Linked DNA regions of Homo sapiens. The protein of the gene in region 1 interacts with the protein of each later gene in a pairwise test. Each region holds a gene or a part of one and is shown on either strand. Other genes may lie near its edges.

The links.
Region 2: the proteins of NTM (region 1) and C19orf47 interact in binary tests that used the Homo sapiens proteins (3 or more experiments, as listed by UniProt).
Region 3: the proteins of NTM (region 1) and CCKBR interact in binary tests that used the Homo sapiens proteins (3 or more experiments, as listed by UniProt).
Region 4: the proteins of NTM (region 1) and QRFPR interact in binary tests that used the Homo sapiens proteins (3 or more experiments, as listed by UniProt).

The regions. Positions count from the first base shown.
Region 1 is NC_000011.10:132,143,600-132,150,623, forward strand, and holds part of NTM (neurotrimin isoform 9 precursor), read left to right. Parts: intron 1-2,682; coding exon 2,683-2,915; intron 2,916-7,024.
Region 2 is NC_000019.10:40,345,391-40,352,725, forward strand, and holds the start of C19orf47 (uncharacterized protein C19orf47), read right to left. Parts: upstream 3,008-7,335; 5' UTR 2,934-3,007; intron 2,900-2,933; exon of another isoform or gene 1,799-2,899; intron 1-1,798.
Region 3 is NC_000011.10:6,255,078-6,262,852, forward strand, and holds the start of CCKBR (gastrin/cholecystokinin type B receptor), read left to right. Parts: upstream 1-4,760; 5' UTR 4,761-4,851; coding exon 4,852-5,002; intron 5,003-7,775. UniProt on the Homo sapiens protein: Receptor for gastrin and cholecystokinin. The CCK-B receptors occur throughout the central nervous system where they modulate anxiety, analgesia, arousal, and neuroleptic activity.
Region 4 is NC_000004.12:121,336,017-121,343,040, forward strand, and holds part of QRFPR (pyroglutamylated RF-amide peptide receptor), read right to left. Parts: intron 4,595-7,024; coding exon 4,436-4,594; intron 853-4,435; coding exon 791-852; intron 1-790. UniProt on the Homo sapiens protein: Receptor for the orexigenic neuropeptide QRFP. The activity of this receptor is mediated by G proteins that modulate adenylate cyclase activity and intracellular calcium levels.

The DNA.
Region 1 (7,024 bases):
GTACACATAGTGGGCTCATGTAGTCAATTAACATTGACCATGAATGTGAATTCATCCAGTCCCTGCTTGGACCCAAGTGAAGGTCAGAGCAGTGGCCACCCTTCAGATTATTAATATAAGCTATCCTAGATACATTACTAGCAAAGCAAGCTGCAAAGTGTGTTTTTGTTCTTGAGAGATTTCAAACTTATGTCGTTCCAAATTCATGTTTCAGACAAGGCAGTACCAGATGGCAGTCATGGGGTCTGCAAGGAGCATAAGGGAAGGTACACCCTTAGGTGTAGTAAGAGAGGTGCACCCTCTATCGACTGTAGTTTTCTCCTTCTTGCTCACCCTCAGAGTCCATTCTGGATATTGTCATCAAAGCCACAAGAAAGGCTTGGATCAGTTCAAACTTCATGTGCATTCAGGTTACCTGGACATCTTATTAAAATGCAGATTCAAATTTCTTATCTCTGAGAGGAGACCTGAGTTTCTGCATTTCTGATGAGCTCCCACCCAAGTGATGCTGATGTTGGTGGTTTGCCAGCCACACTTTTGTGTAGTGTGGTGCTAGCTCAGTGCTTCTTAAACCCTAATGTGCACAAAACTCATGTCTAGATATGAACTTCTAGATGTGACTCAAGGAATGACCAGGGGCCATCAGCTTTGGCATTACCTGGGAGCTTGCTAAAAATGCAGAATCCAAGGCCCTACCTCAGACCTACTGAATCAGCATCTGTACTTCAGCGAAATCCCCAGGGGGCTCATGTGCACCGTAAAGCTTGAGAAACATGTGGAGCTGGCTTCACAACTTTGTTTATTTCCATAGAAATCTGTGGTTGGTTTAAGGCTGTGTTCTCACCACCTTGAAATCCTTATTCATGCTTGAGCAAAATATTCTGTGTTCTTATTTTGCACTGGGCCCCATAAATGATATAAGTTGTCCTAGACACACTGCTCCATATTAGTGGTTTTGAAACATTAGTGTGTGTATGACCCAACTGAGATGTTGTTATAAATTCCCAAATATTCTGAATCAGTAGACTGGGGGTGAGACTAAGAATCTGTAATAAACCTCTCCTGTGATTCTAATATAAGTAGTCCATGAGCACTTTGAAAGGTAGTCCCCAGATCTTCTCCAAGCTAGGCCTTCACTCATTTCCATGCTGTATCAGGATGGTGCCAGAGAGAGCCCACCTCTCATCTGCATTGCCAGAAAATGCAATGAGCTGCAAAAAACTTGTTGGACACCTGTGCCAAGGTGTTTCTTTTTGGGCAGTATTTCCCACAAGAACTCTCAGCAAACTATCCCTGTGCACCTAAGTGATCCTTACATAATGTTGAGACATTTACATAAGCAAAGCAGAAAGGATGCACAGTACAGGATGTCTCATGGGGACAGGGGGTCTCCTGAAGAAGCAGGTGTGTATAGTAGCACTTGTTAGAATTTTTATGGTCACAAACCATTTTGAGAATCCAATAGAAGCCATCACCCATCCTCAATGAAAAATTCACCTTTGCACATTATGAGTCTCACATAGTACCAGGAATTAGAAGACTTGACTGAGAGGTCTGACTTCTATACTTCTAGCTCTCATTCCTTGGACAAGTCATCAGGCTATTCAGAACCCTAGTGTCCTGATCTTTAAAGCAGAGAATGGGTAAGAGTGTCAACCTCATAAATTTGTTGCAAAACATCAAAGGAGACATTGAGCTGTAAAAGTGCTTTGTACACTGCAAAATAATGTATACATTTGAGACATCATTATACATCCTATGCTACATTGTTATTTCCAGCATTATAGTCAGGATCAGGACACTGCTTGTAAATTTAGCCTAAGGCCATGGAACAGACTTGCTGTAGTAAGAGAGGGAAATGAATACAGACAGAAAGACATGATGAGGACTTGGCGAGAGTTGCTGGGAAATTTAAAAGTGTAGAAAAGAGAAGGGAGATTCCACAATTCAAGGACTCCAGATGCAAAAATAAAAGAAAGAAAATCTATTTTTATATGTGCAGACAGTTTTGAGATTTTGGAAAGTGGCTTTAGTCTAGCAGTTAACCGAACATTTCTGCCCCTGGGTATAATGAAGATGAATAGCAATAGTGGTGGTCTGTATTTAGTTTTGACTGCAGAAGCCTTCTGTGGGAATTTGCTATTCTGAGATGAGAGGAATGATGTTTAGTAGTTAAAAGCTGGGTCTCTGATCTAACACATAATTATTGTGTGACTTGGAGAACTAGTTTAGTTTAGTTTCTCTGCTCTTCTAGGCTTTTTCCAATAAAAGATTCTTCATAGGGTTATTATAAGTATTGAATGACTTAGTGCACCCTAAACAGCTAGACATAACTATGAAGGATTATCATCACCCAAATCCTTGAGCAAAGGGAGAACTGGTAGTATTCGAAGTATCCAGCCATCCTGGGCATGCAAGGTACCTCTAGGTTATAACTGAGATCGTATTTGAAGTGGTTCTGTGCTCAAGTGGTTTGAGAAGCTCCGAGCAACATTCTGAGGCTGTAATCCCATAAGACCTTTGCTGTGTTCCAGAAAAGTCCACCCCTGACAAATCAAAGGAAATGTATGTGTTGGGGGAAGGGAGAAAGACAAGATATTCTAGCCTTGCCATGAGGACCTCCCTCTGATGGCTGCTGTCGTCTCTCAGTCCCTTGACGTACCTGTCTGGTCTTCCCTTCAGGTGCACTATTGACAACCGGGTCACCCGGGTGGCCTGGCTAAACCGCAGCACCATCCTCTATGCTGGGAATGACAAGTGGTGCCTGGATCCTCGCGTGGTCCTTCTGAGCAACACCCAAACGCAGTACAGCATCGAGATCCAGAACGTGGATGTGTATGACGAGGGCCCTTACACCTGCTCGGTGCAGACAGACAACCACCCAAAGACCTCTAGGGTCCACCTCATTGTGCAAGGTAGGTGGGCGGGGCTTGGCGGGGAGATCTGGCTGGCCAGCCTGGAAAGCCTTCAGGTAAAGGTTTGTTCTCTGATCCTCAACAGAGATGAGTTATCCTTATTCTACGCATCTGGGGTCCAGGGCACATTTCTGGTTGTCATTTTGCAGTTAGAAGCTAAATTTTCCAGTCATTTTCATTGAGTGGAACTAGGAATTGTTTTTTTCATTTTTGTTCCAATAATATATTTTCTCAGGAAATTATCTTGTAATTATTGCTCTTCTTGGCTTTTTTCTCCCCTAAGTTTTAGTTATTTTTGTTTGTTTGTTTTTTGTTTTGTTTTGTTTTGTTTTTTAGATTTCATCCAATTCCAAGACTGTGTTATGTTTAAAACCAGACTTTTAATGCACTTTTGGAAGTACAGGTATGCCATGTCCCCCTCCAGCCTTGAACGAAAGCAGAGCCAACCAGGATGCACTGGGCACTGCCCTCAGCTGCATCCTTCACAAGCACCTGCTTGTTTCCAGCTCACTTGCGCCTCCTCTCCTCTCCCAGCCAGGGGTTTTGGATGCCATTTCTCCCATATAATACTGGTGTCTGATTCTCCCTGTTTTGATTCCATCCCAACTCTCCTGGCCTTCTTCTCCTCCCCTGACTCCTAGTTCATGAGGCCTTGTATGTTTGTGTGTGTGTGTGTGTGTGTGTGTGTGTGTGTGTGTGTGAGAGAGAGAGAGAGAGAGAGAGAGAATATGTGTGTTGGTTATGCTCTCTTAGACCCTGGGAATGGAGCTCACCTCTTCCCACAAGGCAGAACCAGTCCTGGGGCATTCAGACAACACTTAACCCGGTTGAAGGATTCCTAGTTAGTGAGCAAGAGCTGGCATCACACTTGGCCACTTTCTGGCTGTGAGACCTTAATCAAGTTATTACCGTGTCTCAGGGTTCTCTTTCTGTAAAGGGGGTCAACGTGAGGATTGAACTGTAAACGTACTGACATAGAAAACACGTAGAAGAGGGCGTGGCACATACAAGTGCTATTTCAGTGTTAGCTATGGAGCTTTCTTTTCTCTTTTTTAGGACTTTTGTAATTTTTAAAATTTTTGAGCATCTTTTACAGTGGGTCAAATATCTTATTTTGTGATGTCAGCAGTATAGCCCCTGAGCAGCGGCATGCCAGATCCAGTGCTGGAGCCCTTTCCCAGGCTGATCCCGAGGCCCTTTCAACCAGGGACGTGTAGCTCCAGGGTGACAAACTCCTCTCCTAGGGGCTCCTTCCACCAGTCCCCTTGTCGGTGTGTTCAAGAAAAGGGTAAAGAACTATGGGATGATTGGTTAGAGACAGAATAGGAAGGAAGGCAGCTTGAGAAGGAAGAACTGAAGTGAGCCGGAAGAAGGAAGGGGAGGCCTGCTGTTTGACAGTAGGGGAAGGCGGAACTTGGGTCGTGATCAGCACTGTTGAGTGAGGCAGGGTGAGCAGGACTGAGAGGAGGACACATGAGAACAAGGTGATGCTGGACCTGGCTGTGGGCAGAACGTATGCCAGGGGACATGGGAATCCTTGATGCTGTGGCCCAAGTTTGGTCATGCCAAGTTTTTATTATATTTTGCTTACTCTTTCTTCCCCAAAGGAAATTACAATGGCTGTTTAAAAAATGATTCTATAAATGAATACTTTTTGAACTGATGCATGCAAACAGCAATTTTAAAGAAAATAGAATTGCATAGAAGGTATCAGAGTGTATTACAAAGAGTGGAGTAGGTATTGCCATGTGAGATTTTTGTTTCAGTTTGTGTACATTTTTTAATGTAAAATACATTTTTTATTATGGATAGGGAGGCCAAAAATGCTTGAGAATCTCCACTCTGTGGGCAGGGCTGGTGAATGCCCTGGTGCCACCATCTGCATACTCTACCAGGTGGTGGTTTGGAAGCTATTGCTCAGCCCCCCTCCTGTCCTGCCCCAACCCCTGCACACTTAGTGTTGAGAAAAGAATGCCTAGCATTGACAATGAGAGACTGGGAACTAGGAACTATTAGAGATATTTGCTTTAGGAAGCAGGGCCTCATGGAACTGGAAAGTGGAAGGAATTGTGAAAAGTGCTAATGTCTCCTTGAAAACTGGATCATATTTTTGTCATTTTCTTTCTTCAGCCACCCCCACTCACACACACCCCCACACCCCTGCCCTGAACACCTCGCAGAATGCCTGATACAAAGTGAACATTTAATAAATGCTTATTGAAGCAAATGGCTAGAATTAGAGCCAGGTGATCTTATATGGGCTCCAAGAGAGACGGCTGGGTGTTTTTGGGGGTGAGATGATGGGAGGGGGTGAGAGGATGGAGTCTACATCAATCTTCACTCACATCCAAGCTAATGGAAAATGTCTAATCCCTTGCTAGGTGTTTACATCTGTGACTTAGCTAGGTGCCCTCTCGCATGACACACCACCTCAAGTATTGGAATCTCATCTTGGGCTAATTTTCGAATGCTGATGGGTGTATTGATCTGGAAACAAGCTGGGTTAAAAAAGGCATTGGTCTTTTACACAGACTCAGCCCAAGCTAATCCGCTGTCGATATGCCTGGACTGAGTATTATCGACACTTTAATGAATAGAGGACCATAGTTTTTTCAGAGCCAAACTGACCCCCTCTTCAAAGCGATCAGACAAACTAAATAGAGCCAGATTCTTGTGTTTCTGTATTGGAAAGAGGATGCACCACCATCCTGGATTACAAAAAAAAAAAAAAAGGGAAAGAAATATATTTATCTTGGGATCGTTTATTATACCAAACATAAACCCTAATTCCCCTAGCAGAAGCTGACTCTCTGGATTTGAAGTTGCTATTCAGCCCTGAGCTTCTGGAATAAAAGTTGGGCATATTAGGTTTTCAAAATGGTATTATGATCCTTTAAAAAAAGAAATAAAAACAGCAACAACAAAAAGGAACTAAATTGATATTCTGCCCATGAGTATGTGTATTTATGTATATGTAGTCACCTTCATATCTAAATAAATCCACACAGAAGGAAGGTAGTGGCATCTCACAGCATTGCACAAGCTGCTTCAGGTCTGGGGTATGTCTTTCCCCTTACTGTCAAATATCCCATCTACCCCCTAGTTCTCTGTACTGGATTTTCTTCCCCTGTGGTTCTGATCCAATATGGTTATTTCTTGCAGACAGCCGTGAGGCCAAGGCGACCACATGGAGCAAGTCTCTGGGGCAAGCTAGGAGCAAAGGGCATCCTGGGGGAGGAGGGTGACCCTGGAGCCAGTGTGGGAGGGAGATGGAGGGGGAAGGCGGCAGAAAGGAGGAGACAAGAGAACTGAGCCAAGTAGCTACTTGCCAGGGTGGCTATTTTAAATTAAATTTAAATTAGCTACAACCAAACAACATTTAAAATTTACTTCTTCAGTCACACTAGCCACACTGCAGTGCTTCCATAGTCATGCAAGACTACTGTTCCCTTGTGTTCATTTTGCATTACTATAAAGGAATGCCTGAGGCTGGTAATTCACACACATAAAAAAGAGGTTTATTTGGCTCATGGTTCTGCAGCCTGTACAAGCACAGCACCAACATTTGCATCTGGAGAGGGCCTCAGAATGCTTCTATTCGTGGCATGGCGTGAAGGGGACCCAGTATATGCAGAATTGCATGGTGAGAGAAAAAGCCAGAGACAGCAGGGACGGTGCCAGGCTCTTTTTTACCACCAGCTTTCGAGAAAGCTAATAGAGCAAGAACTCACTTGCCCCACCCCCTGCATTTATCTATTTATGCTCCATCCCCATGGCCAGACATCTCCCATTAGGCCCCCACCTCCAATTTTGGAATCAACTTTCCACATAAGATCTACGGGAACAAATACCCAAACTACTGCACTCCTGTGTTGGACAGTGCAGAGAGAGAACATTTGTGTGAACTTCCATTGTAAAAAGCTTTATTGGATAGTGCTATAAGGGGTTACCATTATGGATCAGCAGGTGTTAAAGCTAGAATGGCTTTCCATGGCTTGAAGGGCTAGGTATATTGTGGAAAGGAGAGTGGAATTTTGGAAAGAGAATGGAAATTTTAAATAGATGGTGCTCTTTTAAAAACAAGAGAGAATTGTTGAAAAAGATGGAGT
Region 2 (7,335 bases), on another chromosome or scaffold:
CCTCAACTGCACAATAAGAATGGTAAGGCCGGGTACAGTAACTCACACCTGTAGTCCCAGCACTTTGGGAGGCCGAAGCAGGAGGATCTCTGGAGCCCAGGATTTTGAGGCCAGCCTGGGCAATATAGCGAGACCCTGTCACTGTTAAAAAAAAAAAAAAAAAAAAAAAAACTGGGCGTGGTGGCTCACGCCTGTAATCACAGCACTTTGGGAGGCTGAGGCGGGTGGATCACCTGAGGTCAGGAGTTCGAGACCAGCCTGGCCAATATGGTGAAACCCCATCTCTACTAAAAATACAAAAATTAGCCAGGCATGGTGGTGTATGCCTGTAATCCAAGCTACTCAGTAGGCTAAGGTGGGAGAATCGCTTCAACCCGGGGCGGGGGGGGGAGAGGTTGCAGTGAGCCAAGATTACGCCACTTCACTCCAGCCTGGGCAACAGAGCAAGACTCAGTCTCAAAAAAAAAAAAAAAAAAAGGAAAGGTGGCTGGGCGCAGTGGCTCATGCCTGTAATCCCAACGCTTTGGGAGGCCAAGGCAGTGGATCACAAGGTCAGGAGTTTGAGACCAGCCTGGCCAACATGGCGAAACTCCGCCTCTACTAAAAATACAAAAAATTAGCTGGGCATGGTGGCAGGCACCTGTAATCCCAGCTACTCGGGAGGCTGAGGCAGGAGAATCACTTGAACCCAGGAGGCAGAGGTTGCAGTGAGCCGAAACTGTACCACTACACTCCAGCCTGGGCAACAGAGTGAGACTCCATCTCAAAAAAAAAAAAAAAAGTAAGATTACCAATTCTTGGCCAGCACCTTGGGAGGCTGAGGCAGGTGGATAACCTGAGGTCAGGAATTCAAGACCAGCCTGGCCAACATAGTGAAACCCCTCTCTACTAAAAATACAAAAATTAGCCAGGCGTGGTGGTGGGCACCTGTAATCCTAGCTACTCAGGAGGCTGAGGCAGGAGAATTGCTTAAGCCCGGGAGGCAGAGGTTGCAGTGATCCAAGATCGCACCACTGCACTCCAGCCTGGGCAACAGAGCGAGACCTTGTCTCAAATAAATAAATAAATAAATAAATAAATAAATAAATAAATAAATAATAAAAATAAAAAAACACCATCTTAAAAAAAAAAAAAGAGGACCCTTTTTTTTTTTTGAGATGAAGTCCCACTCTGTCGCCCAGGCTGGAGTGCAGTGGCGTGATCTCGTCTCACTGCAACCTCTGCCTCCCAGGTTCAAGCAATTATCCTGCCTCAGCCTCCCAAGTAGCTGGGATTACAGGCCCCCACCACCATGCCCGGCTAATTTTCTGTAGTTTTAGTAGAGACGGGGTTTCACCGTGTTAGCCAGGATGGTCTCTATCTCCTGACCTCGTGATCCGCCCGTCTCGGCCTCCCAAAGTGCTAGGATTACAGGCGTGAGCCACCACGCCCAGCCAAGGACCCATTCTTAAAGGTGTTACAAGGATTAAACGAGTTAATAAACAGAGTCCTTAGAACAAAGATGCACGGCAGGTGGTTAAGTGCGATGTTAAGTGTGCATCAAATAAAACAAATCTTCAGTAAGCTAGGGAAACAGTGGGACAGTCACTGACTTAATGCTAGTTTTATACAAAGTGTGAGCTGGGAACAAGTATAAGGACAACTTAATGGGGGTCCATGGGATCTGACAACAGGGAATCACACAGTACAGGTTCTGAACAGTATCCCTATTCAAAGGGAATACGTAGTATTCCTTTTCAATTATCTTTCCATTTCAGTGTACAATGTAATGGGCTGTTCAGTTTCCATTGTATTTTACCTGAACTTTTCCTTCCTCTCATGGCCAGCAATGCTAGTTTTCCATTGAAGACAGCAATGCGCCGGGCACGGTGGCTCACACCTGTAATCCCAGCACTTTGGGAGGCAGAGGCGGGCAGATCACCTGAAGTCAGAAGTTCGAGACCAGCCTGACCAACATGCAGAAACCCCGTCTCTACTAAAATACAAAAAAAATTAGCCGGGCGTGGTGGCGCATGCCTGTAATCCCAGCTACTCGGAAGGTTGAGGCAGGAGAATCCCTTGAACCCAGGAAGCGGAGGTTGCGGTGAGACGAAATTGCACCATTGCACTCCAGCCTGGGCAACAAGAGCGAAACTCCGTCTCAAAGAAAAAAAAAAGAAGAAGACAGCAATGCAAATTTGCCTTCTCAAATTAACTTACTGGGGAAAAAAATGCACTAGTCATTATCAAGAAAAAGAAAAAAACTAGTACTTCAGGACTCAGCAAAATTGGTCAAATAGTAAGTGACAGGATGTCGATTTCCCCGGCTCCAATTCTAAGTTTTTCCTATTGCTGTCTCTGAGCTTTCTCCCCCAGCTTCCCTGGAATTCCCAGCTACACCAATGACTCTCAGAATCATTATCATTATAGTCCCAATCCACGAGCTCTCACTGTGCCAGCCCCTCTGCTTAAAATCTTTACACACACAGATTTCATCAGAATCCTCAAGACGACCCTATGATATTGGGACTATCTGCTCTCATTGTACAGATGAGAAAAAACGGGGTTCAAGGAAGCGAAGACACAGGCCCCACTGCCGCACAGTGGAGCGGGACTTGAACCAAAATTCGACGGCTTCCAAACCCAACAATTTTTCATACTAAGCGCTCAAACATCAATACTAATAATAATAGTATAGTAACGAAGTGAGCGTTATGCGGAGGCGCTGAGCTAAGGCATCCAACGTACACGACCTGACTTCTCACTCCCATTTATAAAGCCGGTGATACAGTCGGATTCTAACCCCCATTCCACAGGGGAGGAAACTGAGGCTCAAAGAAACAAATCGTAAGTCCGAAGCCGTACAACGGAGCCCGAACTGAGTCCAGACACCCGGACGCCACCCGTCCCTACCGCAACCGGCCCAGTCCCACCACCCCCGGCCCGCGCCTCACCTGGCCCACCGGGCCCGCGCCCACTCGCGCCGCCCGCCCTCCCTCCCGGCGGCGCCAACTGTCAGACACTCCTCCCCCGGCCCGGGCTGCCCGCCCCGGAAGCATCCTCTCACCGCCGGAAGCTGAACTGACTCGTCCGCGGCCGCTCTACCCCAACAGGCCGCCACCAGCGAGAGTGCGGCCATAACCATCACGTGACCGCCCACCGACACCAGCGAGAGTGCAGTCGTAACCGTCACGTGACCGCCCACCGTCGGCCCGGCGCTCCCCTCCGCCCGAAGCTAGCAAGCGGCGCGGCCAATGAGAAAGGCGCATGCCTGGCCCCCGCCGGCCTGCAGTCTAGCCGTAGTGCGCCTGCGCGCGGCTAGGAGGGGCCGTCAGGCGGGGATACAGCCTGGAAGGTGCGTGTGGGGCTGGGTCTCGGAGTGGGAGACGTGGAGTGCAGGTACTGTGCGATCTGGGGGCGCGGCGCCTCGGCTACCCTCCTCGTGTTGTCTTCCACGCTATAATGCATGGAATATAATATATATTATATGGAATATAATATATGGAATATAATATATATAATTATAGCGTTGTCTTCCACGCTATAATTTATGTCGTCCTCGGTCTCTTTATGTCACCATTCCTCTCCTTCTGTCTCATCCCACTTAAATCCTCACAACTCCTTCTGTCGCCATCACCCTCTTTAAATCCTCACAACTCCTCTTGTTGTCATCAACGCCCTTAACTCGCTTTCGTTCCCTGTAAGCCCTCTTTGCCACCATAGGTCGTAATCGCTCCCTTTAAATTCGTCATCGCCATATGTTACCTGCATCCTGCTTTTGTTGCCATTTCTCCTTTATAAAATCCTCATTTCTCTTTAAACCCTCATCATACCCCCAAGTCACCTTCGCATGGCTACTGTCCCCATCGCTCTTCTTAAATCGCGCTAATGCAACTCTTACGTCATCATTACCCCTTGTGTCTTTGTCCCTCCCTTGGCATCACTGTTCCTCTGACCAGTCACCATCCACTCCTCATGCTTCCAGTTTTCCCCATAAGGAGCCACCCAGCCTTACAGTTATTTTTCTTCCCTCCGTGTCTTCGTCATTTCCCCGTGTCACATCTCACATAACATACGGGGTACTGCAGCCCATTACCTGGGGTGTGTCAGAATCCCAGCCCCACCACTACACCTCTGGATACCTTGACTGCCTTATGGCACCTTTCCAATCCCAGCTTCATCTGCAAAATGCACACGGGGACATCCACATCAGGGCTGAGTGTGACGATTCTGTGAGTTTATTCTTGTGGTAGGCTCAGCTTGACATGGTGTTTTTGGCTAATATTGTTATTAACCATGTCACCCTCGGCCGGGTGCGGTGGCTCATGCCTGTAATCCCAGCACTTTAGGAGGCCAAGGTGGGCGGATCACCTGATGTCGGGAGTTCGAGACCAGCCTGATCAACATGGAGAAACCCCGTCTCTACTAAAAATACAAAATTAGCCGGGCGTGGTGGTGCATGCCTATAATCCCAGCTACTCGGGAGGCTGAGGCAGGAGAATGGCTTGAACCGGGGAGGTGGAGGTTGCAGTGAGCCGAGATCGCGCCATTGCACTCCAGCCTGGGCAACAAGAGCGAGACTCCGTCTCAAAAAAAAATAATAATAATAGGCCAGGCGCGGTGGCTCACGCCTGTAATCCCAGCACTTTGGGAGGCCGAGGCGGGCGGATCACCTCAGGTCGGAAGTTCGAGACCAGCCTGACCAACATGGAGAAACCCCATCTCTATTAAAAATACAAAATTAGCCAGGCATGGTGGCACATGCCTGTAATCCCAGCTACTCGGGAGGCTGAGACAGGAGAATCGTTCGAATCTGAGAGGCGGAGGTTGCAGTGAGCCTAGATCGTGCCATTGCACTGTAGCCTGGGCAACAAGAGCGAGACTCCGTCTCAAAAAAAAAAAAAAAAAAAAAAACTGCATGATCTTGGGCAACTAACTTAACCTCCCAGCGCCTCAGTTACTGCATCTGCAATATGGGAATGAAAACACAAATTAATCATTCTGCACATAATTCTTAAGCATGTACTATATATGTGCCCAACACTGCTAGACACTGGGGATACCTCAATGAACAATACAGACAAAAATATCTCGGCCTGGCGCAATGGCTCACACCTGTAATCCAAGCACTTTGGGAGGTGAAGTGGGTGGATCACCTGAGACCAGGAGTTTGAGACCAGCCTGGACAACATGGTGAAGCCCCATCTCTACTAAAAATGCAAAAATTAGCCAGGCATGGTGGCGCGCCCCTAAAATCTGAGCAACTCGGGAGGCTGAGGTGAGAGGATTGCTTGAACCCAGGAGGCGGAGGCTGCAGTGAGTTGAGATCGCACCACTGCACTCCAGCCTGGGTGACAGAGTGAGACCCCATCTCAAAAAAAAAAAAAAAATCTGGCCTTATGGACTGTGTACTACACTCTAGTGGGGGTAAGAGGCAATGGGTAAATAGGTAAGTAGATTATTGGATGTATTAGAAGGGGCATGGGGAATGTGGGGTCAAGGTTATAGTTTTAAATAGGGTGGTCAGGGAAAGCTTTCTGAGAAGGTGACATTTGAAACAAATACTTGAAGGAGAAGAGAGAGTAGGGCTGGGCACGGTGGCTCACGCCTGTGATCACAGCACTTTGGGAGGCTGAGGAAGGTGGATCGCTGGAGCTCAGGAGTTTGAGATCAGCCTGGGCAACATAGCGAAACCCCATCTCTACAAAAATTAGCCAGGTATGGTGGTGTGCGCCTGTGGTCCCAGCTACTTGGGAGGCTGAGAGGTGGGGGGATCGCTTGAGCCTGGGAGTTCGAGGCTGCAGTGAGCCATGATTTTGCCAATACACTCCAGCCTGGGCAACAGACGGAGACCCTGTCTCAAAACAAAAAAACAAAACAAAACAAAAAAACGGCCAGGCGTAGTGGCTCATGCCTATAATCCCAGCACTTTGGGAGGCCAAGGCTGGCAGATCACCTGAGGTCAGGAGTTCGAGACCAGCCTGACTAACATGGTGAAACCTCGTCTCTACTAAAATTACAAAAAATTAGGCAGGCATAGTGGCAGACACCTGTAATCCCAGCTATTCAGGAGGCTGAGGCAGGAGAATCGCTTGAACCAGGGAGGCGGAGGTTGCAGTGAACTGAGATTGCGCCATTGCACTCCAGCCTGGGCGACAGCGAGATTCTGTCTCAAAAAAAGAGAGAGAGAAAGAAAGAGTGACATGGCCCTCTGGGGGAACAGCATGCTGGGCAAAGAGAACAGCAAAAGCAAAAGTCTTGCGGTAGGAGCAAGCTTGGAATATTTAAGGAATAGCAAGGAGGTCAGTGAGAGAGGAGAGGGGCAAGAGACGACATTGGAGGGGTGATGGGGCACATCGTGGAAGGCCTTGTGAGCCATGCAGAAGGCTGGCTTTTACTCCCAGTGAGGTGGGTGCCACAGGAGGATGTGGAGCCGAGGAGGGATGCGGTCCAGTGTGACATGAAGCCATCACCCTGAGCTGTGGCAGCTCCAGAACTTCTACCCAGGATCGACTAGTGAGAGGCAGCCTTATTGGAAAGAGAGCCAGAATCTTCTTCAGTCCGCACTCACATATCCTTTATGTTGGGAGAAAGTTTCAAATATCCCTGTCAAAGATCGAGACCGGGCGTGGTGGTTCACGCCTATAATCCCAGCACTTTGGGAGGCTGAGGCGGGCGGATCACTTGAGGTCAGGAGTTCGAAACCACCCTGACCAACATGGTGAAACCTCATCTCTACCAAAATTATATAAAATTAGCTGGGCGTTGTGGCTTGTGCCTGTAATCCCAGCTACTCAGGAGGCTGAGGCAGGAAAATCGCTTGAACCCGGGAGGCAGAGGTTGCAGTGAGCCGAGATCACACCACTTCACTCCAGCCTGGGCAACAGAGCAAGACTCCATCTCAGATAAATAAATAAATAGTCATAAAATTTGAGGGCAGGCTAGGGAAATGCTAACGGAATTTTTGAGAGGCCGGCGCCACCACGGGGTTCAGCTGCTGTCCCAGACGGTGGGGGGCAGGCAGCAGGGGATCTACAGATGATGAACAACAGGAGAGGCAGCTGTCATGTGGCATCTGTCCCTGGAAGCTTGAGGCAGCTTGGGTTCAAATCCTTGCTCCATTTCCTCTCTCTTTTTTTTTAACCAAAGTCCAGTTCCAGGCTTACCACATATCCTATTTCTCTTTATACCTGTGACTTCACCTCTCTGGATCCTTAATTCCCTAAGTGGGATTTTTAAGAGGACTGTTGTGAAAATTAAATATATTAAGTCCAATTTAAAAAAATAAAACAAATATATTAAGTGCTTTGAGGCCAGGCACAGTGGCTTATGCCTGTAATCCCAGCACTTTGAGAG
Region 3 (7,775 bases), about 130 Mb from region 1:
GGTTACTAATTTTGGACCACATTTCTCATTCCTCATTTTGCTTACCCAGGAGCAGCATTTGAATGAGTTCACCAGTTTCTTCTTGCACCTCTTCTCTTTTAGCTTTTATGATGCTTCACTCTCTGGGTTTCCTCCTGTCCCTCTGTCTACTCTTTCTTGGTGTCTTTTGCAGGCTCATCTTTCTCTATCCAGTCTTTAATAATGACCTCTAAAAGTCTGACTTGATCCTTCATTTGTTCTTATTCTACACACTCTAATTCTGTGGTTTGCATTACTTCCTATATGATCTGTATATTTAGCTTCCTAATGGAATTCTACTTAGGTATCTAATAGACATCTGAAACTTAATATGTCCAAAACAGAACAGATTTGATGGTGGGAGTTTCTCTGTGCTAGTTACTATTTTCTCTATGAAGTTGGAGTCTAGGTTGAGAGTGAAGAATGCTCTGTGTCTCTGTGTGTGTGTGTGTGTGTGTGTGTGTGTGTGTCAGGGTGGGAGAAGAAATTAGAGATTTTATGAGACGAGAAAATTTAAAAACAATATTGTGTAAAATGAGAGAAAGAAGGTAATCAGGGAAATTTGGTAAGACATCTACTCATTCTAAGCAGCACAGTATGAACAACTGAATTCTGATTTCCAAAATCCCTGACTTTGACTTCTGGCTCTTTCACCTAGTAGCTTTGTGGCTTTGGGCAAGTTACTTAAACTCTCTCTAAGCCATAGTTTTTTCATCTAAAATAGTGATCAACAATATTGGACCTAAATTCATGGTTCTTCATGAAGATTAAATGTACTTACAGGTAATGTGCCTTGAACATCATAGGTGATCATCAAATAGTTTATATTGAGTTACCAGAAACCTTATTCATTTTTTATCTCATCCTTCTTTCTCACCCTCCACATGCAAATTATCTTTAAATTCTGTTTCTACCTCCTAGATAGGTCTTAGATCAATCTTTTCCACTACGTCCATGACTTTAGGTCAAGCCACTACCATCTCTCACCCAAATTACTGTCATAGACTCCCAATTGGTCCCACCTTTTAAGTTGCTCCCCACACTAACTCCACTGCAATCTTTCCAAATCTTTCTAAATCTTAACAAATTTCCAATGCTCCCAATTCTTCCTTGCATGGCTTGCAAGAGTCTGCATTTGCTGCCTCATGAGATAGAAGGTGTATGATTTGTCTGTTGCTGTTGTAATAAATTACCATGAATGTAGTGGCTAAAAACAACACCCATTTATTAGCTCACAGATCTATTGGCCAGAGGTCTACACAGTGTGGCTGGGTTCTCTGCTCAGGGTATCAGAAATCAAGGTTTCAGCCAGACTGAATTCTCTTCTACAGACTCGGGGGAGGACTGAAGTCTCTGTTCTTTTGCTGGCTGTCAGCTAGAGACTGCTGTCAACTAGAGGCCACTCTCAGGGCTTGTCCTGTGCCCTCCTTCACCCTCGAGCCAGAAAACAGCCACCATTCGTTCCTTGCCACATTATCCCCTCCATCTTCAAGCTATCAACAGTGTGTTGAATTCTTCTCATTCTTCCAATCTCTTTGATTTCCTCTTCTGCTACCAGCAAGAAAAAAAGAACCCTTGGCTTTTAAAGAACTCATGTGACTTGGTTAGGACTAGCCAGATAATCTGTCTATCTTGAGATCAACTGATTAGTAGAATTAACTCCATCTGCAAAATCCCTTTTGCCATATAACATAATTGTGGGAGTAGTATCTCATCATATGCACAGGTCCATCCACACACAAAAGAAGATTATATAAGGGTGACAGTCATTGGTGGTCATCTTCTAATTCTGCCTACCCAAGGAGAGGAAGCCAGGGGAAATATCCCTGAAGAATCGTAGCTTGAGCTGAGATCAGATGGATGAGTAAGTGTTAACTAGGTAAGGAAGGAAAGAAGAAGCTTCCAGAGAGCATATGGAAAAGTCATGCAACTGAAGGACATATAGCAAAAAAAAAAAAAAAAAAAAAGAAAAGAAAAAAGAAAAATAAAAGAGAAAAAAGAAGGAGTGACCAAAAAAAGGCTAATGTGTTTACAGTGGAGAGAATAAGAATCATTGTGACTCTTATTTGAAATAATGTGATTTGAAATAATGTGGCTAGAGAGGTAAGTGGGAGCCAGGCCTCACAGGCTTTCTAAATTCTGTTAATATGTTTTCTCATTCCCAAAAGCAAAGGTCAAAAGAGTGGGATAGTCAGATTTGTATTCTGAGCATAGTACTTCGGCTTTAAGGTGAAGTATAGATGTAGAGAGGCATCAGTAAAATGTGGTGGCCCATTTAGGAGGTTAGGAGTGTGGTTCAAGAGTAGGGTAATATCAGTGGACATATAAGCAGGCAGATTCAAGGAACACTCAGTAGCTAAAATGAACAGGACTTTGTGATTGATTCAATATGGGAGTGATGTAGTTATGTTCCCCAGGAAGCAGACTCTCAAACAAAGATTACTGTGGAGGATGTTTACTAAGGAGCGTTCTTGGAGTTAACACCTGTGCAAGAGAGAGGATGAAAATAGGATTGGGCAAAAGGAGAAGCTGAGTAGTAATTCAGTCCCAGCAAAGACCTCAGTCAACCATATGAAGGGTTCTAGGGGTGTGAGCATCTTTCAGAGTTGTCCACCACTGGGTTGAGGGGATTAAACTTTTATACCTCTGTGCTGATCGGTCATTGGATATAGAATGCCCAAGAAAGGGAGCATAACCTTGGATGAGCTGGCTTTCTTCTGCTTAGGCAACTCCTGAAGGGTTATGACAGCTGAGGGCCATCTTTTAGGAGCACTCTCCACAGCTGGAAAATAAATCCTCCATTTTTGAAGAGGGTTCTGGGCTTTGCATCACAGCATCCAGCGCAGGGGTGAAGGAGCATAGGGGAGTAAGGCATCAATAATAATTCCTAAATTTCTGATTTGTACATCCTGGTGGGTGCACTTAACGACCATATATTACAATCATTGGCTTGCTTGGGAAAATCCCACTAGAGTAGGTGCTACTGAGGGGCAAACTATATTGGACAACTAGTGCATACCCCTAGAACTGGCATAGTTTGCTAAATAAGTGAATGTCCATCTATTTCTATTTTCACTCCCCTCTCCCTTACATCCTTTGCTCCCTTCCCTCCTCATCGTACTGTCATCCAATGTGGGAAAACTTGAGCAGGTTATCTGAGGCCCCACCTGTGCTGGAGCGGAACAAATAGCAAATCAAGCTCCTCTGGTCCAGGCTCTCTGATGGGCAAGACAGGCAGTACCAGGAGGAAGGAAAGGGGGAGCAGTTGATGACATCTCAGGCATAAACTGTCTTTCAACTCTCTTTCAATGCTTCAGCCCCTATAAACTCAGGGCTGGCTGAACCAGGTCCTCTCCAAAAGATTAATTGGATAAGGGCCTGCTGAATCCCCCATAAAGCCAGACTCCATTCTCTAATTTGCTCTTCCACTGATGCCCGCCCCCAACCTCTTACAGCTACTGCTGGGGGTCAGAAGAATTTCACATCGTATTGGAGTTCATCCGGAATCTGAAGAATGGATAGGAATCTGGAGATAGGAATCTGGAGATAGGAATCTGGGGAAGAAAAGGAATGGATAGGAGAATGCATAGGGAGCAGGGCTGAAATAGTAGAAGAGGCAAATCCTGCCCCGAGAAGCTGAACCCAGTTCAGTCCTGCACCCTTCAGCCCTGTTCCCGCTGCACCGCAGTGACCCAGTCCCCTTCTAGCCCCCTCTCGTGGGAACCTGACACCCTACACAGGCAGCTCTGCCTGCACTGAGAGCAAACAGGGAGCGTTAGCGTGTCGGGTGGGCGTGGGCGCTGCCTGGAGACGGTGGAGAAAGCCAACCTTCTCCTTCTCTTTTGCCTGCGCTGGGCCGGCGTTAGAATTATATCCCATCCTCACCTTACTCTGGTTTATCCTTGTCAGTGCTTGCCACCACCCCCAACTGCCCTCAACACTCAAGTCAGAAGCTTCCTCCCGGGAGCCCTTTTCCCTGGCAAGGCTTCCCTGGAGCCAAATCTCGGCCCCGGCCCCACCCCCACTCCCGCCCAGCTGTGGAGGGCTCCTTGGGACCCTTAAGTGCAAGCCTGAGTGTTAAGCCTCAGACAGGAGATGGAGGGTGCGGAGACAGATGCAGGAGCTACCCCAGGCCCGCAGCGAGGAGCTGCAGGGAACTACGGTAGCAATAGTGTCACGGTCACTGCGGCCACTGCAACACAGTACGGTAAATGCGGCTCTAGGCTCAGACTAAAGCATCCGCGCCTCAGCAGGTGACGCACGCAGACCTGGTCTCCAACGCCACCTCCACGTTCCCTGATACACCAGAGAAAGATGCTGGATCCGTGGCAGCCGTCTCTACCCAACCCCTCCTACCCTCCCTTCCCCGAAACCTCCCCCTACGCTGCCAATACTCTTGTCTTCAATCTCTCTCTCTCTCTCTCTCTCTCTCTCTCTCTCTCTCTCTCTCTCTCATTCCTGGGAATCGGGGGTGGGGGCGGGTGATAAAGAGAGGTGGGCAGGAGAGAAATCTCTAAGAGGAGACGGGACACATCTAGGGAGGGGGCGAGCCTGGAGGACAGTCGCACAGGGAGGGGCAGAACTCCCGAGCCAGGGAGGGGGTGCACAGTCACCTGGCGGGACAGAGGCTGGCGGAGGGACGGGAACCCAGGCGGGGCGAGCCGCGGGAGAGTGGAGGGCAGGCGCCTGGGCTGGGGGCGGGGACCAGGCGGGGCAGGGGGCAGGGAGAGGAGGGCGGCGGGAGCCTGAGCCGGAATCGCAGCGTGAGCAGGTGGAGCCGCGTTGGGAGCCCGCCGGGTCGAGCTGAGTAAGGCGGCGGGCTCGGCGGGGGCCATGGAGCTGCTAAAGCTGAACCGGAGCGTGCAGGGAACCGGACCCGGGCCGGGGGCTTCCCTGTGCCGCCCGGGGGCGCCTCTCCTCAACAGCAGCAGTGTGGGCAACCTCAGCTGCGAGCCCCCTCGCATTCGCGGAGCCGGGACACGAGGTGGGTGCCTCCCTCAGCCCCCCCCACAAGCTATTTCTCACTGTACCCCAGAACACTAATAGAGTCCCCCCAACGAGCTCCACACTACCTTCTCAAACGTCCACACCGTGCCTCTCATAGTACTCCCTCAGCCCCCAAACAGCTCCCCTCACACCTTCACCCCCACAGCCTACAACTTCATCACAGCTTCACACCACCTGGTCGGAACTCCTTCACATCCTGGTCCCCTGAATACACCTAGAGCCCCTGCTCACCCCAAAGCACAGCCCCTTCCCCAACACGCAGCCCCTCCTAGACACCAGTCAGAAGGCGAGGACCTCCTCTTGCCAACCCTGCAGATCTCCTTTTCCCTCTTACATCCAGTTCACAGAGCCACAACAGAGAAGGGAAGGAAGAAAGGAAGGCAGGACTGGGAAAAGAAGGGGGCTGGTTGAGGGAGGGAGCACTCTGGAAAGCTTGAATGCGAAGCTGAAGTTGTGATCACATCTGACACCCCAGCCCCCAGCCATCCCAAAAAAGATCCTCAAATCTGAATTAGGCTGGACACTAGGGGATGCTCCTTAGAGCTGCCTGCCTCCATTTCACTCCTTCTCAAACCCCTCTGCCTCCCTAGTTGGAGCTTTCGAGGCTCTGTGCCCTCTCTCTTTGTCTGCAAGTAATGTCTCCAGCTATCTTCCAAGCTCTCTCTCCAGCCCTAGGCTAGGTGCTGGGGGCACAGGGCAAACTAGACCCAGTCTGGACCCTCATGGCCCATAGCCAAGTGCAGAGAGAAACCAAGCAAATGGAAAAATCACAGACACAATGGAAGTCCCATGAAAGGGTCTAAACTGTGGGCACCAAAAGAACTTCACAGAGGCTAGAACCTTAGAGCTGGGTCTTGAAGTTGAGTAGGCAGAAAAGGAAGGAGTGGGATTCTAGGTGAAGGAGCAATGTTAAGCAGAAGGAAATTTTTCTAAACTCAAAAAGGGAAAGTTGGAATAAATTGTAATCCAAGTATTTATTTACCCCACGAAATAATCTATGCTTTCTCAGCCGAGTTGTTACACACTCACACTTGGATTCTGTCATTCAGCCAATATTTATTGAACCAGAGATTGTGCTAGGCAGTGGGAATGTAAGTTGAACAAAACCGACACAATTCCTACTTCACAGAGCTCAAAGTTTAATGGGCGAGACAGAAAAGCAGGGGATTGCAGCACAAAGTGGAAGAGCCTTGACAGGGAAAAGATAGTGGGAACACAAGTGGAACACCTCTAGCCCAGCCCAGCCTCCTTGAGAATTAAAGTTGGCCTCTTGAGGAAATGAGCTACAAAGTCAAAAAAATTAGGGAGGCTGGCTCTAAGCTTCCTGTTGGCAAAAAAAAAAAAAAAAAAAAATATATATACACACACACACACACACACACACACACACACACACATATACATATGGGAGAGCCAGCCAAGTGAACGGGCAGAAGAGGCAGAAAGCATCCCAAATAAAAGGACAAGATGTATAAGAAGCTCAAAGTTTGAATTCATGGCACTTTTATCCACTGTGACATAGTTTTGAGTGACTAGAACATATATCTTAAGAAGGGAATAATGAACAGGCTGGAGACCAGCCTAGAGGGTTTGCAGAGAGCCTGCTAGGCCTGACCATGGAACATGGACTTTCTCCCGAGGGCAATAGGAACTACTAAAAGATTCGGTAGTACTACCAGGATTAGTTCTATAATGTGGAGAACGGATTGGAAGACATAAGATGGAAGGCAGGGGGATACTTTACAAGGTTACTATATTACACTGTTCTGGGTGAAAGATGATGCTAGCTGAGACTAAGGTAATGGCAAGGGAGATGGAGAGAGGTGGATAGATTTGAGAGCCTCTTCTGGAAATGGAATCAACAGATTAGAAGCAGAGAGGATGGAAGAGGTCAAGGGATGACATTCAGATTTCTAACTTGGACAACTGAATGGATATTGGTGCTATAGCAATTGTATACAATGAGAAAGATAACAAAACAGCAGAAACAGGTTTGGAAGAGGGAATTATAAATTCAGTTTGGAACCCATTGAGTTTAAATGTTAGTGGGGCATCCAGGTGAGGTTACCTAGTAAGCTGTTGAATCCAGGGGTCTGGAACTTACAGGAGAGGTCTGAGGTGGAAATACAGACTTGAAGAAGGTCTTTGCCTACAGGATGTAGAAGCCCCGAGAATAGTTAAAATCATAAAATTTTGTATAGAATGAGAAGAAAATAGGTCCTAGGTCAAGACTCTGCATAAGACCATTATTTAAAAGCCAGGCAGAGAAAGGAGAATTTATGAAGGAGATTCAGATGAAACCATCAGAAAGGCAGGAGCTACGCCCTTCCAGAAAGCAAGAAAAAGAGAGTTTCAAGCAGGTTGGGGTAAGTGATATCAAATGCTATTGACATAAGTTACATAAATAAAAAACAGGACAGTCAGAACAGCATCCTTCACATTCAATAACAAGAAAATATTTAGGAGTTGTAGGTATTGAGGCTTGACTATGGTAGGTTAAAGATTGGACTGGTGAGAGAAGGAGTTATGAGAAGTGAACCAAGGTATGTAGCCAAAACTTTCAAGAAGTCTGGTAGGCAAAGAAAGAGAGAGAGAGAGAGAGAGAGAGAGAGAGAGAGAGAGAAAGAAAAGCAGGATATTGCCAAAAATAGCATGAGATTGAGGAAGGGGGGAGTGGGTATGTGCATAGGTTTGTTACGTGTGTGCGCGTGTGTGTGCACGCATTTTAAAACAAGAGCTTTTTAAAATGT
Region 4 (7,024 bases), on another chromosome or scaffold:
CTCTTATCTTAGGCTCATTTGTTATCCTTGAGGATGACATGACATGGACAGTAAAGTTTCACATTTGCCTATCTCTACTTTAAAAGGTAGAACGGGATAAATCATTTAAAACTTATCTTAGGGGGTATGTAAGCAACCCCCTACCGTCTTTGAAAACTCCTGTCTGGGTAGATCACCTATGCAAGACATGTTAAAGTCCACCCTAACAGACAGGCTGGGCTGTCTGAAACCAACTCAGCACTCTCCTTCCTGTGAAGCCCCACACATGGCTGGGCCTGTCTGACAAAGGTGTGGGGAAAGGAGAGAGGTTGATTAAGATGATCTCCTGATATGTTTCCAGTTAGAATTTCAATGTGTCAATGAATAGGAGGCAGGTAAGAAAGGACTTCTGAGAGTCAACTAAGTAGATAATTTATTACAATTTTTTTTACGTGACTTAAAAATAAAAGAAAAACCTAGAGCAATCATTCAACTCTTAAAATGTAAGAAAACATTTAGGGACACTGGGAAAAGCATACTCAGCTTGCAGGAAAATGTAGAAACTGACCTGTGTATTTTTGAAAAATTGTATTTTAAGCATTAGAGTCCTAACAATGTATCAGGAAGAGCTAGATAAAACAGAGAAAATGAACCTTAAAAAATCATTTTATTCCACTTAAAAGACCTCCAGTGGAATAGCTGAGGTCATACAAATTTGCTGTATTGCTCCTGCAGGAAGGAAAATAATTACAATTAAGAGGGGTGAGAAAATAGTTCAACAATATGATTATACATCTCAACTGGAGTCTACCTCAAGTTGTTGCACGTGCCACATGGGTGATCCTACGATGACTGCCACCAGCCAGACCACACCTGTAAAAGTGTTAAAGTCATGAGAGTATGACTCAGTTGAGTAAAACACATCCATGCATAATTATCTAACCCTCAAGATTCCCTATGAGAGGGCAGCTGTTCTCTGCCCTAGGGCAGTGCCATGGTCTCCCCCAAGTTTCATGCTTCCACTCTTTCACCATCCTCAAAACTGCTGCTGGAATAAACTTCCTAAAACAAGTTTTAAACATTTAATAGTGTTTCACTGCCTACAAGATAAAACCCAGTTTCCTTAGCATGGCCCATGAGGTTCTCTACCATCTCAATTGCCTCTCTCTCCTCTTTCATTTCTGTCCATGCTCTTCACACCGCAGTCCTCTACTGAGGAGCCTGCAGTGCTGGTTTCAGTTTCCGTATCCCAGAATGCACTGCGCCACTCCCTGGCCACCCTATCCCCAGTGTCTATCTGTGGACTCATTTTCCAGGACTTGACTCAGAAATCACCTTCTCTAGGGAAACTTTGAAGGTCACTACTATTTCCAAATAAACTGACTACTAATTCCTTGTTGTCTCTACATGCCCTCTAGTGCAGTGTCTTCGTTGCCCTTACTCACTTCTCAATTTCCTCCAAACTCCTTGAAAGCAAACACAATGCCATTTATTTTTGTGTTTCCTCAAATAAGAGTCCTAGGAAAATTCCTGGCCCTCTGTAGGAGCTGATCCATGTTGGTGGAATGGATGAATAACTTTTAAACATGACATAGACCACTCTCTGTCACCTCTTTTTAAAATCAAATGTACATTTATCTTAAGCACCATAACATGGGCATCACATGTATACATATGTAACAAACCTGTACGTTGTGCACATGTACCCTAAAACTTAAAGTATAATAATAAAAAAAAAAGAAAACAAACACTGATAACTTCAGAAACCAAAATGCTCTTTCCAAATTTCCTGTCTTCCACGAACTTGTTGAGAGGGATTGCTTTAATGATGTACTCTTAGAAAAGAAAAACAGGGATTAACTACCAAGAACAATTTCAACCCGTGTGTTTTAACAGACATGGAAGAGGACGGAACCAAGGGCCCCAACTTTGATTTGGGGGAAAAGTTTCCAGCTCGAACTCTGCTTGTTCTTTCTATATTGGGTGGAACATTAAGAAAACAGTTTATTGCTTTGGGTTTCAATGACTCAATTAAGCCATAATTGGGGTTTATTATAAAGAAACACATAATTTGGTGCTGCCTATAAAAATTCATCATGATCCAATGATACCTGGCAGCTGTAGGACTCACAAGTCTGTCTGTCTGGCTGTCTCTATTTCTCACTCGCTCTTTCTCTTTCTCTTTTCTGCCTCCCTATTACCATACACATCTGTTCTATTTTAATCACATATAGTTATCTTATGTCCAATCATTTTTCTGGGCTTTAGTACAAATTCTGGAGGAATTGAGTCTAATTTTCATAGCTCATTGACTACCTTCCTGGATCCCTGGATGGTTCTGAGATAGAAGGGCTAGAGTTGGATGAACAATACTGACACAGTGACCACATCTGGGCAAGAAAGCCTAGAGGACCTAGGCCAAGCTTGTCCAATCTGCATGTGGCCTAGGAAGGCTTCGGATGTGGCCCAACACAAATTTGTAAACTTTTAAAAAATATTATGAGATTTTTTTGCGATATATTTTTTAAGTCATCAGCAATCGTTAGTGTTAGTGTATTTTATGCGTAGCCCAAGGCAATTCTTCTTCTTCCAATATGGCCCAGGGAAGCGAAAAGATTTGACATCCCCTGTCTAGGTCTAGGCAATCTCAGCTGGAAGGAGGAATGGGGCGTGACTGACAAACACTGACTGACAAGGCTGAATGACAGTGTGACAAAGCTACAGGAGACATTAGACCACAGTTCACAAAAGCCCCCATGGCGAGATGAGTCTAGTTGATTTTAAAACCTTCTTGTTTCCTATGTCTCTTTTGAGTAGGAACTGCCTTGACTGCCTATTATCAACTATGCTTTGAGATGTTGTCACTCGCGCTACTTCTCTTTCCTTTTAAATAACTCCCCTCCTCCATGTAATCCTTTCCTTACTTGCTTTCCATCCCCACATGCTGTTTTCAGGAGTTCTGATGTTGGAAAGATGTCAATTATTAAAAGCCCAGAAATCTCTGAATTCTTAGTAGGAAAGATATGACATAAAATTAAAACTAACTAACTAAAACTAACACCTTTCTCCCCTAATGATTCAGCTATTATTTTCAAGCTATTTAAAATGACTTTGGCATTGCAAAGCCTGCAGGGGTTCTTTCTGCAATTCCACAGCCCAATACTGGCTAAATTCTTACAGCAGAAATAAATGTTTACTCATTCTTCTCAAGTGAGATATTAGTAAAAATTGCTTTATTTGATTATCACATTAGTTGCTTGCTACACCTCTGATTATTTGCTATATTAAATTCAAACTACTGTGAAGCACACTAAGGTTTTAAATGGCTCAATTATAATTACTGAATAGAGAAATGCTTCCATTTTACTGTGTTAGACTTTAGGGCATTGCTTCAAATTTACCATTTATCATGAGGTATGTGTTCATTGTGACTTGCTGACTCAGGAACAATTACAGCAAGCTGACGATCCAGAAATGCCTAAAGGAAAAGTATGAAGTGGGTGGAATGTGCCTTTGCCAGGCATCCCCAGCACTCAGAACCCACTGTTCTCATGTACCCTGTCACTTTCTACCCTTGTGTACTCACCACAAGGGCAGCAACCCTGTTCTCCACTTTTCTAAAACCACATTTCCTGCTCCCTATCATTATCAACCTGCCTGGCCAGGTGCAGTGGCTCACACCGGTAATCCTAGCATGTTGGGAGGCCAAGGAGTACAAGGAGAGGCCAAGGGGGAATGGCTTGAGCCCAGGAGTTCAAGACCAGCCTGAGAAACATAGAGAGACCCTGTTGCTACCAAAAATAAAAAAAATTAGCTGGGTGTGGTGGTGGGCACATGTGGTCCCAGCTACTTGGGAGGCTGAGGTGGGAGGATCATTTGAGCTTGGGAGGCTGAGGCTGCAGTGAGTTGTGATCACACCACTGCACTCCAGCCTGGGCTACAGAATGAGACCCTATCTAAAAAAGAAAAAAAAATCGACCTGCCCTTGTTAGCTTGGCTTGGAGTCTTCTTATCTCAAGATGATAATTCCCAGCTGGGCATAGTGGCTCATGCCTGTAATCACAGCCCAGACTTTTGAGACCAGCCTGGGCAATGTAGTTGACACTCTGTCTCAAAAAAAAAAAAAAAAAAAAAAAAGATAGTTCTCAATCTAATGAGTGTTAATGTGGCAATGCCACTGGTAGGTTATCTTAGATTAGCTGAACATAGTGCTTAAACGTTTAAGATGTAAACTGAAAAAGTATACCCAAAATGATACATTTTCAGTTTTGAGGTCAGCCTAAAAGAGAGATGGTGTGGAGATGAAGGCAAACAGGGAAAGCACTGAAACTCTCAAATTATATTCCAATGCCTACAAGTTAGATAAGAAGCTACTCTTCTAGTTTAAAAATATGGTTCTCTATTCTGTAATGAAGAATGTCATTCACACTGCCATTGGCACATCCAGTGGCCTCACCTAGCATTGTGAAAGCCCTTCGGTTGGTGTATTGCCACTTCATTTTAAAAGGATGCACAAGTCCCTGGTGCCTTTCCACAGCAATGCAGGTCATAGTGAGGATTTCTGTCACAACAGCGGTAGACTGGACAAATGGCACCATCTTGCAAATGAAAGCACCTGCAGTAAGGAAATAGGACAAATCATACATCAAAACAAAAAGAATAAAGGTTTCATCTGTGTCTTTGTAATTATCACTATCAGTCCATTCTGAGCCTCTGCCAAAAAGTTTGATAATTGTAATTACTCTGTAGACACAAAATAATTGAAAAACATTGCATTGGTTTATCTTTCTCCCTCTAACTGAACTTTATGTTCCTAAATGCTATGCAATTATGTATAATAAGACAATGAAAGGACAAATCAGTATCTAGCCATAGAAACAGTGGAAAAAAAGCAATATGACTTTTGCTTGGGGAAGAGCAAAGTCATTGTAAACTGGCCTCCTGGGCTCTACACTACAAAGTAATCTTTGATTGTCTCTTTTCTTTTGGCTTCCTGGCAAATCACAACAAAGAATAGTTCTCATCAAAGACTCCCATATTTCTTCTTTTATCATTTATTCTCCTTTGACTCCCTGCCTAAGACTTTATATATGTATTACACCATTACACACCAAACTGATTTTACTTTCTCTAATGCAACGGTCTCAAAGTGGTGGCCACTAGGCAAGTTTTGGCCTGAAAACATGCTTTATTTGGTTACACAATAGTTTAAAATATTTGAATGTATTGTCAATCTTTTAAAATGTTTATACTATCTGTCTGGCCTCTTTACCATTTGGATTTGTGAGTCTTGGTCTGGCACCTCTGGTCTTGAACCCATGCTGCTTGCTGCTACCAAATTCATCATTCCCAGCTACAAGAGGATCATAAACTCAGGGAATGTGAAGTTGGAAGACTCATCAGAGGTTATCTAGTTCTAGTTTATACCAAAAGCAGAAATTCTCTCTTCAACTTCTCTCTGAAATGCTCTGCCAAGCTCTGCTTAAATACAGGTTGAACATTTCTAATCCCAAAACCTGAAATCTGAAATGATCTAAAACCCAAAGCTTTTTTGAGTGCTGATATGATGCCACAAGTAGAAAATTCCGCATCTTCCCTCATGTGACAAATCACAGTCAAAACACACAAAATCATTTAATATATTGTATATAACTACCTTAAGGCTACGTGTGTAAGGTATATAAGAAGCATAAATGAATTTCATGTGTAGACTTCGGTCTCATTGCCAAGATACCTCATTATGTCTGTACAAATATTCCAACATCCCAAAAAATCTGAAATCTGAAACACCTCTGGTCTCAAGCATTTCAGAGACGGAATACTCCATGGGAATACTCCTTGCTTTCACAGCCCCGCTTCAGGTCTTCTCATGGCTTTTTCTGCTCCTTGGAATGCTCTTCCCTGAGATCACTACCCCACATCCTTCCCTGAAGTCTGCTAAAATGTCACTGTGATGGTTAACTCTATGTGTCCAGTGGACTGGCTTAAGGAATACCCAGATAGCTAGCAAAATGTACTTCTGGATATGCCTGCGAGGGTGTTTCCAGAAGAGATGAGCATTTGAATCAGTAGAAGACAGGAGAAGATCCTTCCTTCCTAGTGTGGTTGGGCAGCGTCCAATCCACTGAAGGCGCGAATAGAACACAAAGGCACAGGAAGGGTGAATTTGCTCTCTGCTGAAACTGGAACTTGCACTTTCTCCTGCCCTTTGACATCAATGCTCCTGGTTCCCACACCTTCTGACTCAGACTGGGACCTACACCAACAACTCCCTGGGTTCTCAGGCCTGCAAGCTTGAACTGGATCTCCACCACTGGCTTTCCTGGGCATCTAGGTGGCAGATAGTGGATCATGGAACTTCCCAGTGTCTGCAGTTGAGTGAGCCAATCCCTCATAATTAATCTCTCCTAAATATCTCTAAAATATCTTATTGGTTCTGTTTCTCTGTAGAACCCTGACTAATGCAGTCACCTTCTCAATGAGGCTGACCTACTCTAACAATCATATTTGTAACTGAGCCTGTCCCATTCCCTATCTCCTCTCATTCCTCATTTCTTTTATTCTACTCTTTTCCCATTCTCTTTCACATGTTAACATACTGATATATAATATATATGCTGCTAATTTGTTTTTTATTTTTATTATTTTATTACTGTTTTATTATTTATTTACCCCTACTAAAATATAGATGCCAGAGCAATAATTTTTGTCTATTTTTTTCGCTGATGTATTCCCAGCTTTAAGAATGGCAATACGTTAGGCCATTAATAAATATTCATTGAATTGAAAAGAACAGATGAGTAGGAGGCTCATCACTCCTAAAGGCATCCCATTCTATTTTAGAGAGGCCCTAATTGGAAAAAGTGCTTTTAAATTCCACTCATTCCTAGCTTTGTTCTCAGAGTCTCAGAACTAACCAACTATCTTTTCCAAACAGTGGCTCCACATGTATTTGACAGAAGCCTTCATGTCACTCCTGTCTTTCCTAGTTGTCGCAGCTGTTTCTCATTTGCTATGCTTTTCAGAACTTTCAAAAAGGTGAATG